2 separate regions of the Homo sapiens genome follow, and region 2 is linked to region 1. Evidence: fine-mapped expression QTL. Tissue or cell type: nasal epithelium. Region 1 holds a variant in brackets; the other region holds the start of a gene. All regions are shown on one strand. Distances are from middle to middle.

What was found. PIP is the estimated chance that this variant, and not a neighbour inherited with it, causes the effect.
Region 2: it holds the start of NIPA1, and the variant in region 1 is fine-mapped to the expression of NIPA1 in nasal epithelium (TOPMed, PIP above 0.99).

The regions. Positions count from the first base shown.
Region 1 is chr15:22,822,641-22,833,060 of GRCh38, forward strand. It overlaps NIPA1 (NIPA magnesium transporter 1), which reads left to right. Exons shown (of 5, transcript NM_144599.5): 5 at 1,088-7,149. The coding sequence ends at 1,599. Among named protein-coding and RNA genes, the nearest start is that of NIPA2, 11 kb to the right of the region's middle. RefSeq lists an enhancer at 4,249-5,001. The variant A/G (reference allele first, on the strand shown) is at 4,024.
Region 2 is chr15:22,782,373-22,791,431 of GRCh38, forward strand. NIPA1 (NIPA magnesium transporter 1) reads left to right here and starts at 4,272. Exons shown (of 5, transcript NM_144599.5): 1 at 4,272-4,462. The coding sequence starts at 4,285. RefSeq lists silencers at 3,944-4,177, 4,140-4,499, 4,570-4,719, 4,730-4,859 and an enhancer at 5,210-5,319.

The DNA.
Region 1 (10,420 bases):
CAACATGGCGAAACCCCGTCTCTGCTAAAAATATAATAGCCAGGCGTGGTGGCGGGTGCTTATGTATTCCCAGCTACTCAGGAGGCTGAAGCAGGAGAATCGCTTGAACCTGGGAGGTGGAGGTTGCAGTGAGCAGAGATCGTGCTATTGCAATCCAGCCTGGGCAACAAAGAGCAAAACTCCATCTCAAAAAAACAAAACAAACAACAAGAAAAAAAGAGAATGGTTCCAATAGAGGACCATGTAAACATTTAGGAGCTGTAAATGGTTTTTTTTTTTTTTTTTTTTTTTTTTTTGAGACGGACTCTTGCTCTGTCGCCCAGGCTGGAGTGCAGTGGTGTGATCTCGGCTCACTGCAACCTCTGCCTCCCGGGTTCAAGCGATTCTCCTGCCTCAGCCTCCTGAGTAGCTGGGATTACTGGTGCATGCCACCACGCCTAGCTAATTTTTTGTATTTTTAGTGGAGAACAGGGTTTCACCAAGTTAGCCAGGATGGTATTGATCTCCTGATCGGCCCACCTCGGCCTCCCAAAGTGCTGGGATTACAGGTGTGAGCCATTGTGCCCTTCTGTAAATTTTTTTTTTTTTTTCTGAGATGGAGTCTTGCTCTGTCACCCAGGCTGGAGTACAGTGGTTTGATCTCGGCTCACTGCAACCTCCACCCCCTAGGTTCAAGTGATTCTCCTGCCTCAGCCTCCCAAGTAGCTGGGATTACAGGCGCGCTGTAATTTTTGTACTTTTAGTAGAGACGGGGTTTCACCATCTTGGCCAGGCTGGTCTTGAACTCCTGACCTCATGATCCACCTGCCTTGGCCCCCCAAAGTGCTGGGATTACAGGCATGAGCCACCGCGTCTGGCTAACCCGGCTGTAAATGTTTTAACAGTGAAAATGATGGGAATACTTTTGTGGAATGAAATCAGTGGGTCTGGTAAATTCAAGCCAGAGCCCACATGCTCCCCAGGGCTGTGCCGCAGTAGAGGCCGGTGGCGGGTGGCGGGTGGGGGCCCGGGTGCTGCCCCAGTCCACCTCCTGGGTTGCGGCTGCTAGGCGGTGGCTCCGGGTGACTGTGTGCTGTCTGTGTTCCAGTGTTTGTGGGCTACCTGTGCATCGTGCTGCTCATGCTGCTGCTGCTCATCTTCTGGATCGCGCCGGCCCATGGGCCCACCAACATCATGGTCTACATCAGCATCTGCTCCTTGCTGGGCAGTTTCACCGTGCCTTCCACCAAGGGCATCGGGCTGGCGGCCCAAGACATCTTGCATAACAACCCGTCCAGTCAGAGAGCCCTCTGCCTGTGCCTGGTACTCCTGGCCGTGCTCGGCTGCAGCATCATCGTCCAGTTCAGGTACATCAACAAGGCGCTGGAGTGCTTCGACTCCTCGGTGTTCGGGGCCATCTACTACGTCGTGTTTACCACGCTGGTCCTGCTGGCCTCAGCCATCCTCTTCCGGGAGTGGAGCAACGTGGGCCTGGTGGACTTCTTGGGGATGGCCTGTGGATTCACGACCGTCTCCGTGGGGATTGTCCTTATACAGGTGTTCAAAGAGTTCAATTTCAACCTTGGGGAGATGAACAAATCTAATATGAAAACAGACTAGATTGCAATAGGAGCTTGGATGGTTCGAGGAATAGGCATTGGAGGTGGTTTCTGGCCGTGATTGGATGTGAAGTAGAAGAGGTCCTCGATCATGGTGTTAGAATTGACTGGATAGTAACAGGTGGTCTGGTGGATAGCGGGGAGCATGGCTCAGCACCAGAGCAGAGGCCCAGCCAGCCCTCTGCAGCCCAAACGTCCCCAACGGTTGCCTGGCACCATCTCTCTCTGATGAGACGAATCTCATTTTCATTTCCATTAACCTGGAAGCTTTCATGAATATTCTCTTCTTTTAAAACATTTTAACATTATTTAAACAGAAAAAGATGGGCTCTTTCTGGTTAGTTGTTACATGATAGCAGAGATATTTTTACTTAGATTACTTTGGGAATGAGAGATTGTTGTCTTGAACTCTGGCACTGTACAGTGAATGTGTCTGTAGTTGTGTTAGTTTGCATTAAGCATGTATAACATTCAAGTATGTCATCCAAATAAGAGGCATATACATTGAATTGTTTTTAATCCTCTGACAAGTTGACTCTTCGACCCCCACCCCCACCCAAGACATTTTAATAGTAAATAGAGAGAGAGAGAAGAGTTAATGAACATGAGGTAGTGTTCCACTGGCAGGATGACTTTTCAATAGCTCAAATCAATTTCAGTGCCTTTATCACTTGAATTATTAACTTAATTTGACTCTTAATGTGTATATGTTCTTAGATTAGAATAATGCAACTTCGAGTATGCTTTAATATTTCAATATTCAAGTTACAAATGTATAAGGCAGTTAGAAATAATACAGTCACATGTCACTTAATGATAGGGAAACATTCTGAGAAATGCATTGTAAGGTGACTTTATTGTGTGAACATCATGGAGTGCACTTATACAAACCTAGATGGGACACCTATGACCCACCCAGGCCAGATGGTACAGCCTGTTGCTCCTGGGCCACACACCTGTACAGCATGTGACCGCACTGAATACCGCAGGCAATTGTAACACAGTGGTGAGTATTTGTGTTTACAAACATAGGAAAGGTACAGTAAAACTATGGTATTACAATGTTATGGGACCACCGTCATGTAAGTGGTATGTCTTTGACAGAAACATGGTTACGTGGTTCATGACTGTATATTCACTGGAAGATAGTCAAGACTAAAGACACATTAGAGCAAATTGACCCCTTTAACATGTGATTATTGTCCAATTAAAGACAGTTGATTTAAGTAGCATGAGGTATTATTTTATTTGTATTCGATCTGTGTTACCTGGGATCCAGTATCAAATATATCCACATTCTTTATCAGCAAGCATTCATGGCCATTCAGAAGAAATAAATTAGGTAACTTGATAATAAGGCTAAGTGGGAGAGTACCTGTTCAATAGCTCATATATCGAGTACCCTGTCATACAGGAACAAGTTAAAGGACACAATTGAGGTTAGGCTAGCTTCTACAAATTGCAATATGCAGTTTTTGAAAGATTTTCTAACAAAAAGCCAATAAATGTAGCCATCTCCTTGTTGTTTGCAATGGCAGAGCATCCTAGAGTTCCTCAGCTAACCTCTCATTATGTGTCTTAAATGCAAAAGAGCCATTAATTATGCCAGTATTTGAATCAAAGAGGTCATTCTCTGTCTATAGTGTTCCCATCCATGTGTTCCAAATGGGAGCATAGCATGAAGTGATGCACATATTTCACCACGGTATCATGTACTTCATGGCCAGTGTTTTATCTCAGCAGGGAACTACGCCAAGTTGAAAGATGGGGTTGGGTAAAGTAGATTAGGTGAAGTAGAACATAAAATTGAATAGTACCCAATTAAAGTTCCTCAGTAAGAAAAAAAATGTGTTTTTGTAGGCAAAAAGAACATTTCTAAAGTCTCAAGGAATAGCTTCCTAAAGTGTTGAGTAAAGAGGCTAAATAAAATGAGACTAGTTTAATATAGAGAGAAAAATACCTTTATGGAGTAAACGTGTACATGATGATCATGGGTTGTCAGTGATTTGTGAACTGAGAGCAGCAACAACATTATTTTTTAAAAATCTTAAATCCTCTCAATGGATGGTTAACAAATGCTCAAAGTCCATTACTCTTTTTATTGGCTCTTGCAGGTTTTGTGTTTTATCATCAGTGCTTTTAGAAATGCAGGCCTTAACTTACTGAACTGAACTTTCTGAAAACGTAATGTAGCAGTATCAATATACTTTTGGGCATAAAAATAGTTTCCTAGGTAAGGGGTGTGAGATATTCAAAGAATACATGTGGCTAACAAGTGTAATGAGAAAGTTCATGTGTCACATGAAAATGATCATGTTTGTGTTGCTACAGCTTTTGTGGGAAATTTAGTTTAAAGGCAGCTCTTGGTGTACCTTAGTATATTTTAATCCACAATTATACCATTGATACTGAGAGGTGATACCCG[A/G]TGATCTTCTCTATAATATTCTTAGAGTAAAACAAAATCTCAAAAGTATTAATAGCTCTTCTACCCTTGAAGGTGACTGGTCCTGGGACAGTTAGAATCTTTCAGGTTTACCTCTGTTCAGCAGATACTTCAGTAGGATACATAGCTTTTCTTCCAGTGAAACAAAGTTCATATCATCCATTGTTTTTCAAGCACGTGACACCAGCCTCAAAGTAAATGACATGACCAGTGGTTGAACAGTCTAATTTTCAAATTTAATATAGAGCATATAACTTCTGATTTGATAGTATTTATTTTAAAAAATTATGTTTTCATCATTCATTTGAAAATGAAAAAGCCCCAAAGTGAGAACTTTGGGGGAGGGCCTAGAACATGGATAGATCTCTTAGTGGTCTTTCCAAAAGTACATGTACTTGAAATATTTTCATTATCATACTATTCTTTGAAAAAAAAGATGCTTACTGTATACTTGTTTTCAAGCATCCTCTAAAATCAAAGGTTTTGATCACAATATGCAGATTTCTCTTGATAGATACTTAAATAGGCTATTTCTCTCCTCTTCTTGGGCAATGCCTTGTTTTCTCCTCTGAATATTTGCATTTGAAAGGATTGCTTCCTGTTCTGCTCATTGATCAAAGGTAGGGCCAATTAAGGATTCTAACCCTAACCCAGCACCACAAAGCCCCCCTGGAGCATCTTCCCGGCTGGCAGGACCATGCCATCTCTGTGGAGAAGGTGCTGGGGAGGGAAGTCCTTCCAGTGCCACATGGAGTGAGGCCCTGCCCATGCTGGGGACTTTGGGGAGGAATTTGGTATTCTGGTGGCCTTGCTCAGCTCTCATTGAGATCTTTTCCTATCAGAATGTTAGTGAATATACTTCGCAGCTCTTTGTTCAGCAATAAGGAATATTCTTTCAATTCCTGCTCTTCAAGCCAATTTACTACACCCAGTTGTCTTTCCAGAAGTTCATCCCAGCGGTAATATGTTGGTGTTTGTTCTTCTTTGGATTTCACATCTGTTTTCTGGTAGAAGTGAGCACTGTTCACTTGTGCAGTCGTCTTATTTTCCTTCTTCCTAGATGACTCAGCTCTTTGTAAATGTTGTGCTCAACTTCTAGGGGCCAGTTCTAGACTTTGGAGATGCAGTGTCTCCCAGGTGTGCACGGACACCTGGTCCGTGGAAACAGGTGTGATGGGCACAGGCTGCTGCCCTTCTGTCTGGTCGGGGGATTCCTCTTCTTCAAGCTGCTCAGCTAACCCAGAAGAGGGGAGAGAGTACTCCGGTGGTTCCCAGAGCCCCTCCCGTTGTGCCGCTTCGACCTGACACCTGCTCGATGCTGACTTAGGCTTCCTGCCACCAAGCAGGAAACTAGAAAGAGAACATTTCAGTGTAAGGTCTGTTCCCGACAGCATGGATTAGCTTCCGTGTTCTGAAGTTGTTCTTTTCATGGTGTCTGACACCGAGGGCGTTGTTCGTCCATCAGGCGGGATTGGATGGAGTCTTGGTGTTTTGCCTTCTCAGGGACCAAAAATGTATCATTGACTCCTTAACAGTGACCTTCCTCCCAAGGACATATCCGTGTTCATTTTTCATAGGTTTTACTCATATTCATAGGTAGATTCTGTTAATGTGAGTTGGAAAGAAAAGACCAATTTGTACACCAGTCACACCACAAGACAGTTTATCATATAAAATACCTCAATTTTTTGTATTCCTCATTTCCACCTCACAATTGTACTGGTGATGAATTTTAAGGGTCTGTCCTTTAGCTTATAGGTGATGTTTCACATCTGGCCAGATTCTTATACCTCCATTGTATACTTGAAAAGGTTCAGAATTACAGGAACAGCAGTGAGAATTTGGCCCACTACCACGACTCATTTGTTTCATTCACATTCCTCACGTGCAACAACATAATTATATTTTAAGAAAATGTAACTTTGTTACATCAAAATATGTTGTCTAGTAAAAAGTTGATATTCAGTAGAACAAGGATCATGTAAATAAACATCTATTTCACATGTACCCAAAAGCATTTAAAAAGCAGAATCCAGGGCCCAGAGCATGAGCCAGGGAGGAGGATGTTTTTCTTCTTTTCTCTATTTTTCCCTAAATTGTGCAAACATAGGTGAGTCTCTTAACCTTTCTGTGCCTCAGTTTTTCTACCTCTAAAGGGGTGGGATGGTTCTTCAAATTGTTTCTAAAACACCGGCACTTTCAGCAGTGTTCTGGTGGCCTGAGATGAGAGCACCGTGTTCAGAAGTGCCTGGGAGTGGCACAGTGGAAACTCCGCTTGCACGGACCATGGAGTCTGCTCAGGACCATGCTGTAGGACACACAGCCTCATGCGCTGAGAAAGCAAAGGAAGTGCTGGGTGTAAAGTTTGCATGATTCCATGAAGCTTTAGTTTTCCTTTTTTTGTTTTAAAAGAAAGGGTTTTATATGTTCTATTGTAAAATATGGAAATTAAACAGGGACTTCAGAAAGCCGCACAGAAAGATCACCTTCCGATGGTGTGATGTGCTCCTGACATTCGGCCGAGGTCTGTATTCTGAAAAAGATTTAATGGCCTGTGAAACACGTGGATTCTGTTGCACTGGATTTGTAATAAATGACGCTGAACTTCCTGCTTCCAAGCAGCTCAACCCTGATGCTGAACTGACACCAGGCGAATGTCAGGGCTCCCAAACCACTAGTGCCAAAGGGTCATGTTGAAAAGTTCAGAATATTTATTTGTCAGAATATAATAATTGCCCCCCACCTTAGTATTTTTGCACTTTACAGAAATTTAGATACTGTTTTTCAGTGGCTTGAGCGTTTTGCCTTTTCAAAGGATAACTATTATTTTCTTGAAAATGGAATATAATCATGAGAGGAAGAAGATGTAAAAAATGTCAAATGTTGATTGGTTGTGTAAAAGTTTTGTCATAGACATGTATTGGGGAGCTTCCAATTAGCATACATAGACACATGTGTCAGTGGCCAAGACCTGCTTATATTTTGCTTTATAGATGTAGTCATAGCATGTTGTTATTGCCTCATGTAAATAAAAAGGCTATTAAGTTTTCCAGTAATATTTATTAATCTGTATGTGTTTTAAAATAAAATAACTTATTTCTAGCTGAACATTTGTTGATTTTTTTTTTTCCCTTTACTTGAAATGCTTATGTAGTCTCAGGTTCCAGATCATCCCAGTTCCTCCCATTTTTCCTATTCTCTTTTTAGAAATGAGTAGCCTAGGCTGGGTGCAGTGGCTCATGCCTGTAATCGCAGCACTTTAGGGGGCTGAGGCGGGTGGGACACTTGAGGCCAGGAGTTTGAGACCAGCCTGGTCAACATGGTAAAACCCCATCTCTACTAAAAAATAACAAAAATTAGACAGGCATGGTGGTGCACATCTGTAGTCCCAGGTACTCAGCAGGCTGAAGCAGGAGAATCACTTGAACTTGGGAGGCAGAGGTTGCAGTGACCGAGATCACAGCACTGCACTCCAGCCTGGACAACAGAGCGAGACTCCATCTCAAAAAAAAAAAAGACAGAAATGACTAGCCTCTAGATCTCTATAACAATGTAGAAAATGTCTACCTGTGGGCCAGGTGTGGTGGCTCACACCTGTAATCCCAGTGCTTTGGGAGGCTGAGGCGGGCGGATCACCTGAGGTCGGGAGTTTGAGAGTAGCCTGACCAACATGGAGAAACCCTGTCTCTGCTAAAAATACAAAATTAGCCAGAGGTGGTGGTGCATGCCTGTAATCCCAGCTACTCAGGAGGCCGAGGCAGGAGAATCACTTGAACCTGAGAGGCAGAGGTTGCAGTGAGCCGAGATCACACCATTGCACTCCAGCCTGGGCAACAAGAGCAAAACTCCGTCTCAAAAACAAAACAAAACAAAACAAAAAAGGCCAGGTGCGGTGGCTCACGCCTATAATCCCAGCACTTCAGGAGGCCAAGGCAGGCAGATCACGAGGTCAGGAGTTCGAGACCAGCCTGGCCAACATGGTGAAACCCCGTCTCTACTAAAAATACAAAAATTAGTTGTGCGTGGTGGTGTGTGCCTGTAATCCCAGCTACTCCAGAGGCTGAGGCAGGAGAATCACTTAAACCCGGGAGGTGGAGGTTGCAGGGAGCCGAGATCGTGCCACTGCACTCTAGCCTGGACGACAAGAGCGAAACTCCGTCTTGGAAAAAAAAAGAAAAAGAAAAAGAAACCGTCTACCTGTGCATCTACCTTAGGGAGCAAATCCATGATGTATGCAGAAATTCCCTGTCCTGCGACTGTCTCTTGATCCAATGAAGTGATAGTATTAAATAAAACCAGCTCTATTTTAATATGTTAGTACCTTTGACATGTTTTTGAGTTGTATAACATATCATTTTACATTTTTAGCCCATAGAAAATGAGACAATTATAACGCATTTTCATACTTCAAGCATCATTAGAAATCTTGTTGCTGATCTTCTTTAGTGTCCTATAATTTTCTTTGTTTTGGTTTTTTTTTTTTTTTTTGAGAGACAGGGTCTCACTCTCTTACAGTCATAGCTCACTGCAGCCTCAAACTGCTGGGCTCAAGCGACCCTCCTGCGTCAGCCTCCCCGGTAGCTAGGACTACAGGCCTGTGCCTCCACACCTGGGTAATTTTTTAATTTTTTTGTAGAGACAGGGTCTAGTTATGTTGCTCAGACTGGTGTCCTATAAGTTATTTTATCAAATGAGAAAAAATGAGTAAGATTTTTTTCTTAGTCTCTATCCCAAAAGATTTAATTATTCACATTTTGATCAAAGTATACTTATACAGAAAACAAGAACAAACATTTTATGAAATCACCAAATGCATCTATGGATAACTCCAGATAGGTTTTTGGGGCTGTGAAGTGTATTAATGCCAAATTCTGCTGTCATTGAACAAAAGCTTGCATTGGTTGGTTACTACTATAGAGTAGTTTGTGCTGGCTGCTAGCCAAGCCTTCCCTGCAAGGGACTTGTTCTAGAATTTCTGTGTTGCTTAGTTACATCCATCCCATCCATCTGATGACCCTTCGTTTTGACATTGTCAGCATGTTTGTTGTAGTATTAGTCACACTTACTTGTTCACCATTAGTTTGAATCTCACATGATAGTTTTAAAAAGGTTTTTAGTTGGAGAGGTGAGACACAGACAAGAAACAGATATAAAAGATCTAGGTACCTCTGCAGCCAGGCACAGTGGCTCACGCCTGTAATCCCAGCACTTTCGGAGGCCAAGGCCGGTGGATTACCTGAGGTCAGGGGTTTGAGACCAGCCTGACCAACATGGAGAAACCCCCGTCTCTACTAAAAATACATAATTAGCTGAGCGTGGTGGTGCACGCCTGTAATCCCAGCTATTCGGGAGGCTGAGGCAGGAGAATTGCTTGAACCCGGGAGGCAGAGGTTGCGGTGAGCTGAGATCACGCCACTGCACTCCAGCCTGGGCAGCAAGAGCGAAACTCCGTCTAAAAAAAAAAAGATCTAGGTACCTCTCTATTACCAGTCCAAAGAGGACAGGATTCATTCCAGCCGAGCACATGAGAAAGAGGTGTGGAACTGGATGGTGGCAAGCAGGACAGCGGTGGTGGTGACCAAGTAAACATAATGAGTGTGAAAATCACTGAGATGATGGACCAGAGGGTGGAGAGAAGGTCAGACCAGGTTGCTCATCTATAACACTGAATCTGTTTTATTTTTGACAAAGACATTGGGGGGATCCCAGCATCTTCTCCTTCCCTTAATTTGGCATACTTATTGTGTTAGTTTTTTATTACGGCTCTTCACAAGTTACATACCTTGTAGCTTAAAACAACACACGCGTATCATCTTACAATTCTGGAGGTTAGAAGTTCCACACAAGCTTTGCTGGGCTAAAATCAAGGTGCAGACAGGATTACTTCCCTCTGGAGGCTCCTGGGAAGAGTCTCATCCCTGCTCTTTTGGTTTCTAGAGGCCGCCTTTGTATCTTGCCTCGTGGCTCCTTCCTCCATCTTTGAAGCCAGCAATGTCATCTCTCTCGCCACTCATCCATCATCATAGCTTACTCTCTGACTCTGACACTCCTGTCACCCTCTTGGAAGGACCTTCATGACTGCTTTGGGCCCACATGGACAATCCAGGGTCAGCTCCCTCTCTCAAGATCCTTAGTTGCCTCTGCAGAGCCCCTTTTGCCATGGAAGGTGGCACAGTCACAGGTTACAAGGTGAGGACGTGGATATCTTTGGGCTTTCTGCTTACCACATCCACTTACCATTTTACCAAGTGAGGCAGTTCACAAAAGCCAACTCCTGGCTTTTAATCACTATCCCACTGTTCTACCTCAATTCACCTTGAGTTATTCCTATATTTTTCAGAAAGTTTCTCCCTGCTCACCCCCAACAAATGTTTTGGAA
Region 2 (9,059 bases), 41 kb before region 1:
CCATCCTAAAGAGCACTCATGCACGTTGGGGAGGAGGGCCGGGGTGCACAGCTCTGACCTGAGTCAGACCCACCTCAGGACTGAGCCCAGCAGAAGGAGGCCCAGAGTCACTGACCATAAAAGGAGCAGATGCCCTCCCCCGTGTTGGTTGAGATGAGTCTTGGGCATTAACTCTAATAATTTCTAACTGCACCCAGAAATACTGATTCACACAGCAACTAGTAAATAATAGCCTTTTAGAGCTAAAAAAAAAAAAGCCTTGTATGGTTTATTATGAATTAACATATGCATTTTACACAAACTAGAGGCACCGTGGTGGGCCAGCAGCAGCCTGTTAGGGGCCACAGCAAGGAGACTGGATTTCCTCAAGTGCAATGGGAGTTACTGGCTAGGCTTTAAGGTTTTAGCCACAGGAAAGATGAATGTATTTCAGAGCAACGTGGGTGGATTCAAAATGAGGTTTAGAACTAGATCCATTAAATTTTTTTTTTTTTTTAGACGGAGTCTGACTCTTATTGCCCAGGCTGGAGTGCAGTGGTGCTATCTCGGCTCACTGCAACCTCTGCCACCCAGGTTCAAGGGATTCTCCTACCTCAGCCTCCCGAGTAGCTGGGATTACAGGCACCTGCCATTGTGTCTGGCTAATTTTTGTATTTTTAGTAGAGACGGGGTTTCACCATCTTGGCCAGGCTGGTCTTCAACTCCTGACCTCATGATCCACCCACCTTGGCCTCCCAAACTGCTGAATTTTTTATCTGAAAAATCTCCCACCGGGCGCGGTGGCTCACGCCTGTAATCCCAGCACTTTGGGAGGCCAAGGCGGGCACATCATGAGGTCAGGAGATCGAGACCATCCTGGCAAACGCAGTGAAACCCCATCTCTACTAAAAACATAAAAAATTAGCCAGGCATGGTGGCGGGTGCTTGTAGTCCCAGCTACTTGGGAGGCTGAGGCAGGAGAATGGCGTGAATCCGGGAGGTGGAGCTTGCAGTGAGCCAAGATCGCGCCACTGCACTCCAGCCTGGGCAACAGAGCGAGACTCCATCTCAAAAAAAAAAAAAAAGAAAAGAAAAGAAAAGAAAAAAAAGAAAAATCTCCCCTCTCCAAAAATCTCCCGGCATTTCTACAGAAGTCTCTACCTAGGTAAGGAGAAGAAACAATTCTTGGCCGGGTACAGTGGCTCACGCCTGTAATCCCAGCACTTTGGGAGGCCGAAGCTGGTGGATCACGAAGTCAGTAGTTCAAGACCAGCCTGGCCGAGATGGTGAAACCCTGTCTCTACTAAAAATACAAAAAAATTCGCCAGGCGTGGTGGCAGGCGTCTGTAATCCCAGCTACTTGGGAGGCTGAAGCAGAGAATTGGTTGAACCCATGAAGCGTAGGTTGCAGTGAGCCAAGATCACGCCACTGCACTCCAGCCTGGGTGACAGAGCAAGACTCCATCTCAAAACATAAGACGAAAAAAAAATTTTTTAGGGAGCTGAAAAGTGAACTGATTTCCTCATTTCTCCTTGCAAGGAATCAATTGATAGCCCAAAATTGAAACCCAGAGTTAAAATAAACGTAACTCCCACCCTCTTAGTGTTTCTCACTTTTTTTTTTTTTTTTTTGAGACAGGGTCTCACTTCTGTTGCCCAGGCTGGAGTGCAGTGGCGTGATCATGGCTCACTGTAGCCTCAACTTCTGGGGTCAAGTGATCCTCCCATAGCCTCCTGAGTAGCTGGGACTACAAGCACATGTCACCATGCCTGGCTAATTTTTGTATTTTTTTGCAGAGATGGGGTTTCATCATGTTGCCCAGGCTGATCTCAAACTCCTGGGCTCAAGTGATCTGCTGGCCTTGGCCTCCCAAAGTACTGGGATTATAGGCATGAGCCACTGTACCTGGCCTACTAACTTTAATTTTAGGTGTATCTTTTAGGAAGTAATATCTCATGGCAAAATAATGTTTGTCATTCAGTAGTTACTGTAGTTTCATTTCAGTTTTTCTTTTGTTAAATTCAAGCAAAATATAGTTTTATGTTTTTAATTAAAATCCCATATGTGTTTCCCCATCAGATAAAATATGCCTGTCATTTAACCTATGTACTCACATGGAAAAATGTCTGGGGTGGAGTTCTTTTTTTTTTCTTTTTTTTTTTGAGACGGAGTCTCACTCCGTCGCCCAGGCTGGAGTGCAGTGGTGCCATCTCGGCTCACTGCAAGCTCCGCCTCCCGGGTTCACGCCATTCTCCTGCCTCAGCCTCCTGAGTAGCTGGGACTACAGGCGCCCTCCACCATGCCCGGCTAATTTTTTGTATTTTTAGTAGAGACCGGGTTTCATCGTGTTAGCTAGGATGGTCTCGATCTCTTGACCTCCTGATCCATCCACCTGACCTCCGGATCCGTCCGCCTCCGCCTCCCAAAGTGCTGGGATTACAGTCATGAGCCACCTCCCCGGCCCTATTTTATATTTCTTCACAAAATAATAATGCTGTATGCAAAGCTGCCAAAAGGTTTATACTTTTCGTTTGTTTTTGAGACAATCTTGCTCTGTTGCCCAGGCTGGAGTGCAGTGGTGCAATAACAGCTCACTGCAACCTCCACCTCAAGCCATCCTCCCACCTCTGCCTCCAGAGTATCTGGGGTTGGAGGTAAAAGCCACCACGCCCCGCTAATTAATTTTTTTCTTTTTTTGGTAGAGACGGGTCTCGCTACGTTGCCCAGGCTGGTCTTGAACGTCTGAGCTCAAGCGAGCCTCCCACCTCGGTCCCCAAAGTGCTGGGATTATAGGTGTGAGCCACTGTGCCCAGCTTGTAGCATCGTTTATAGACAACAAAACCTGGCAGCAACCGGCCAGGCGCGGTGGTTCACGCCTGTAATCCCAGCACTTTGGGAGGTAGAGCGGACGGATCACCTGAGGTCAGGAGTTCAAGACCAGCCTTGCCAAGATGGTGAAACCGCGTCTCTACTCAAAATACAAAAATTAACCCGGGCGTGGTGGCGGACGCCTGTAATTCTAGATACTCGGAGGCTGAGGCCGAGAATCGCTTGAATCCGGGAGGCGGAAGGTTGCAGTGAGCCGAGATCGCGCCATTGCACTCCAGCCTGGGCGACAGAGCGAGACTCTGTCTCAAAAAAACAAACCAACCTGGTAGCTACCTAACACCCAACAATGGCTGAATGGTTAGACAAATTATTATACTGTCATTAGAATAATCATATTTATGTACCGATACAGAAACTGATATATATTAAATAAAAAGGAAATTTCGTATATTGTAATTGGAAACATGTAAAAGTATGTATACATTATGGGAAAACACCTAAAATACTAATAATTAGGTGAGGGTTGTGGAATTGAGTCACTTTAAAAAATATTTTTTTCCAAAAAAAATAAAATAACTTTTTCCTATTTTTCAAGCTTGTAATTTTGTTGTTGTTTCTTTTTTTTTTTTTTTTTGAGACGGAGTCTCGCTCTGTCGCCCAGGCTCGAGTGCAGTTGTGTGATCTCCGCTCACTGCAAGCTCTGCCTCCCGGGTTCACACCCTTCTCCTGGCTCAGCCTCCCGAGTAGCTGGGACTACAGGCCTCCGCCACGACGCCCAGCTAATTTTTTGTATTTTTAGTAGAGACGGGGTTTCACTGTGTTAGCCAGGATGGTCTCGATCTCCTGACCTTGTGATCCACCCGCCTCGGCCTCCCGAAGTGCTGGGATTACAGGCGTGAGCCACCGCGCCCGGCTTGTTGTAGTTTATTAAAACGAGGAAACTAGACTATGGGATCACAAGCCCAGAGCCCCATGTAGCTGACTCTAGCGCCAAGGGCGGAAGAGAAACGCCCAGCGCCAGGGCTCTCCTTCGATCTCTGCAGCGGCGCGCCGGGCTTCGCGCTCCGGTGAGTTGGGCCGGCCTCCGCTGGAGGCTCTTCGGGGACCGCTGCCCGCCGGTGCGTCCTGCCGCGCTCCGCTGCCCGGATATTGCAGAGGACACCACTCAGAAAGTATGCGTGTTTCTCCGCGCTGGAAACTTAACCAGGAGTCCTGCATTTCCATTTGCGAAATCCGGGAACCCCCGCCCCACCCAGCGCCTCACCGGCCCCTCACTGCCGCCGCGTCCGGCGCCACTGCTGTCCCCGCAGCCTAAGGCGCCGGTCCCTGGCACCCCCGTCCCGCCCCCGCCCCTCTTCCTGCTCCTCCCCCACCCGTCCCCCTCCCCTCCCCCGCCCGCGCCTCCCGGTCACCCCCCATCCCGCCCCGCGGGGCGCGGCGCGCAGGCGCAGGCTCGGAGGGCGGGCGCGGGCGGAATGGGGACTGCAGCTGCGGCAGCGGCGGCGGCGGCGGCGGCGGCGGCCGGGGAGGGGGCGCGTAGCCCGAGCCCCGCCGCCGTGTCGCTCGGCCTGGGCGTGGCCGTCGTGTCGAGCCTGGTGAACGGGTCCACGTTCGTGCTACAGAAGAAGGGCATCGTGCGTGCCAAGCGGCGAGGTAGGGCGGGCGGCAGGCGGCAGGCGGCGGGCGGGTGGGGGAGGCGGGCGGCGGAGAAGGCGGTCGCAGGTGGGGGCGCCCGGGTCGGGGCAGGGGACGGGGTCGGGGCCCGGGCCCAGGTTGGGGGAAGGCTGCGCGGGCGGGTGCTCCCCGCGGCGTGCCCAGGCTGCCGCCGCGTCCTGGCGCTCGGGCCCGGGAGCGGCCCAGGAATCACAGGTGCGTCCTGAGCGTCCGGCGCTTCGCCGACGCCACGGCTTTTCTCCGTTCTCAGCGGCTGGAGCGGCTTGCTTTGGTGTGCGGGCTTCCCCGGCTGACTTTTTCCCTCGGTCCAAGACCTGCCCCGCGCCGCCCGGCAGCCCTCGCCGTGGCCCGCAACCCGCGGCCGGGAGCCTCCTGCGGACGCGGTGCTGGGGTGCTCGAGCCCAGCGCCCGCCTGGAAGCGCCGCTTCAGCCGATGCGCGGCCCGCTCCTAGGGTACGCTCGGTAGAGCAAGACCTGGGATTTCCAGTCCCCCGCAGGGGCCTCGCTGGTGCAAAAGGAAGACCCGGGCGGGCTCTCAGGGCTGTGCGTTCCTGGGGTGCTCTTACGGAGCCCGCTGCGCCTTAGACCTGCACCAAATGAATACAAGTGATCTTCAGTTTGGAGAACACGCGCGGCAGATCCAAAACCAAGCCCTGGACGGGCCAAGGCCACTTCCCAGGTGGATGTGCCGCAGCACCGCACTCCGTAGTGCTCTGCGGGGTAGAGCTCTCTGTCAGTGTCGTTTGTGCTGGGAGGCCCCGGACGGGACCGGTTTGCCAATGCAGGATATGGCAGGCTGTGAAACAGTCCGTTTCCATTGCTTCCAGAGGGACTGAGAAAGTCTTGTGGTTCTTGGCCATACTCTTAGAAGAAGAATATTAAGAGCTCTCTGGGAAGGATGTGGCCCCCGACTCTTGGGTTGTGAGAGAAAGTGAACTCGTAATTTACATGGCGGAATGCAGGTGAAACTTTCTCTGAGTGAGCCAGGCGTTGGCTTCAGAGAAGAGATAAAGGGCCCGACAGTCTCGAATGAAAATATAAAATCATGGATAATTTAAGGAATTTAGCTTTAAAGTGAAAGCATAGTGGTCTCCCATACAATTTAAATAGAATTAAATAAAACCAAGTATGATTTTCCAAGGATGCAGATGTGTCTGTCTCTAAGGCACACAGATACACACACACCGCAGCCACACTTCAGGGAGCATCTGTCCGTGTGACAGGCCCCAGGACTGGGTGAGATGGTCAACGCGCGTGACCTTATAAATAGGATGGCCTGAGAAAGCACCTCACCTCCCCAATCCACGGCCCTAGCGTAAGCATGAGGAAAACACCACACAAACCGGAGTAGAAGAACATCTTGCGGCCGGGCGCGGTGGCTGGTGCCTGTAGTCCCAGCACTTTGGGAGGCCGAGGCGGGCGGGTCACAAGGTCAGGAGATCTAGACCATCCTGGCTAACACGACGAAACCCCATCTCTACTAAAAATACAAAAAATTATCCCGGTGTGGTGGCACGCACCTGTAGTACCAGCTACTCGAGAGGCTGAGGCAGGAGAGTCTCTTGAACCCGGGAGACAGAGGTTGCAGTGAGCCGGGATCCGCCACTGCACTCAGCCTGGGCGGCAGAGCAAGACTCCATCTCAAAAAAAAAAAAAAAAATCTTGCAGTACACCTGACCAGTCCTCTGTGAAGGTCATGGAATCTGAAAGCACGTCACAACCAGGAGGAGCCTAAGAACACGTGAACACCAGATGTAAGACATTAGGGAAAAACGAAGGAAAGCTGAATACCAGCTTTAGTTAGTTTTCTAAAAAGTTGAGGAAAACTGTGTTATTTCAACCCAGGTCATGTGGCTCAAAGGAATTGGTGAATAGGAAAATAAACAAGCGAGTAGCCTTTTAAAAAAAACATGATAAGCTGGGTGCAGTGGCTCACACCTGTAATCCCAGCTACTCGGGAGGCTGAGGCAGGAGAATTGCTTGAACCCAGGAGGGGGAGGTTGCAGTGAGCCAAAATTGTGCCATTGCACTCCAGCCCGAGCGAGAAGAACAAGGCTCTGTCTTAAAAAAAAAAAAAAAAAAGATAAATGCTGTTTCTTATACCTATATACTATGCTTTCATTCATTTATTTATTTTTTATTATGATTTTTTTTTGAGACGGAGTTTCGCTCTTGTTGCCCAGGCTGGAGTGCAATGGCGCGATCTTGGCTCACTGAACCTCTGCCTCCCGGGTTCAAGCGATTCGCCTGCCACAGCCTCCCGAGCTGGGATTACAGGCGCGTGCCACCATATCTGGCTAATTTTGTGCTTTTACTGGAGATGGGGTTTCATCATGTTGGCCAGGATGGTCCCGAACTCCAGACCTCAGGTGATCTGCCCACCTCAGTCTCCCAAAATGCTGGGATTACAGGCGTGAGCCACCAACACTCGGCCTATATTATGGTTTTAAATTGATCAAAGTGAACTTGTGATTTTCATTATTTATTTTAAGCCCCAGACATTGCATGGTGTTAGGCTTTAGCTCTATGACTCTTCAGAGCCTCCCGTCCAGGAGGCCATTAGCACCTCAGTTCTTCCCGGTCTGGACCCAAGGTCCTTTCCATCCCTGTGAGCCACCCATCAAGGTGAGCTGAGAGACCAGCCGGCGGGGCAGAGTCACTTACGGCTGAGAGGAATTGTTTTGGGATTTGGTTAGTAAGTAGGAGAGAAAAGGAGAAGAAAACTTGTATGGGGGTTGAGCACCTCCCGCCGAAGAAGGCGAGGGAGGCATGGAGGTGTCTTACACTAGGGAACATTTCCGAGTCATGTGGCACCAAAGTATGTTACCAGTGGGGAATCCATGTGGGACTGCAACAACCTCAATTCTTGCTTCCTCAGAAGAAAGAATTTGGCTGAGGGGCACAAAGCAGAAGGAGACCTAGGCAAGGTTTAGAGCAGGAATGAAAGTTTTTTTTTGGAGATGGAGTCTAGCTCTGTCACCCAGGCTGGAGTGCAGTGGCGCGATCTTGGCTCATTGCAGCCCCCGCCTCCTAGGCTCAAGCAATTCTCCTGTCTTAGGCTCCTGAGTAGCTGGGATTACAGGTACACGCTACCATGTCCAGCTAATTTTTGTATTTTAGCAGAGACGGGGTTTCACCATGTTGGCCAGGCTGGTATTGAACTCCTGACCTCAGATGATCTGCCCACCTTGGCCTCCCAAAGTGGTGGGATTACAGGTCTGAGCCACCATGCCCTGTCAAAAGTTTATTTAAAAGCTTTAGAACAGGAATGAAAGGAAGTAAAGTAGACTTTGAAGAGGGCCAAGCTGGCAACTTGAGAGATCAGAGGCCTTCATTAATTTCATACTTCCCCAGTGACCACCCAGTGCCACTGATTCAGGCTAGCTGTGTTACTCATGGTGGTAGAAGATAGACATAGAGTCTTGTTTCAATGTCTGCTTTGATTTGTTCAACAGATACTGATGAAGCTTTTTTTGTTTTTGTTTTGTTTTTGAGATGGAGTCTTGCTCTGTCACCAGTCTCGATCTCCTGACCTTGTGATCCTCCCGCCTCGGCCTCCCAAAGTGCTTTTTTTTTTTTTTTTGAGACGGAGTTTTGCTTTTGTTGCCCAGGCTGGAGTGCAATGGTGCAATCTCACTGCAACTTCCACCTCCCGGGTTCAAGCGATTCTCCTGCCTCAGCCTCCCGAGTAGTTGGGTTATAGGCATGCACCACCACGCCTGGCTAATTTTGTGTTTTTAGTAGAGACAGGTTTCTCCATATTGGTCAGGCTGGTCTCGAACTTCCAAACTCAGGTGATCCACCCACCTTGACCTCCCAAAGTGCTGGGATTACAGGCGTGAGCCACCATGCTTGGCCTTGATGAAGCTCTTGTAATGCACCAGGCATTGTGTAGGTGTTGAGAATACAGCAGTTTTAAAATCTACTCGCCATAAAATCCTTTCCTACATCTGTTGCAAGCAGCAGAATTGACCAGTATGAAATGACAGAAATAGAGGATGAGGGAGGAGAGGGGAGATACGCAAGCACCAGAGAATGAAGTTCTTGCTTTAAGGGAGACCTAGCGTGACGTTCCTTATGCTGGAAAAAGTTGTGTCTTACTGAAATTTTAAGCTTTAAAAATTTTTTAAATTTTTGGATGGATTTAGGGGTACAAATGCAGTTATGTTATATGGTTATATTGCACAGTGGTGAAGTCTGGGCTTTTAATGTAACATCACCTGAATATAATATTTCATCGCTCCCACCCTTCCCTTCAGGTTAACCCAGCTAGCCTGTATCAGTGGCACTGGGTGGTCACTGGCGAAGTATGAAATTAATGAAGGCACTTGATCTCTCAAGTTGCCCGCTTGGCCCTCTTCCAAGTCTACTTTACTTCCTTTCATTCCTGTTCATTTGGAGTTTCCAATGTCTGTTATTCCACTCTGTATGTCTGAAAGTCAAAAACCGCATGTTCTCACTTACAAGTGGAAGCTAAACAATGAAAGTTTAAACTCTAAATGAATTGCCAGGTGGTAGCATTTCTAGATTTGAGATTCTAGATAGTCTCATCTTCAGGGGAGTCAAGTTCTGGTGA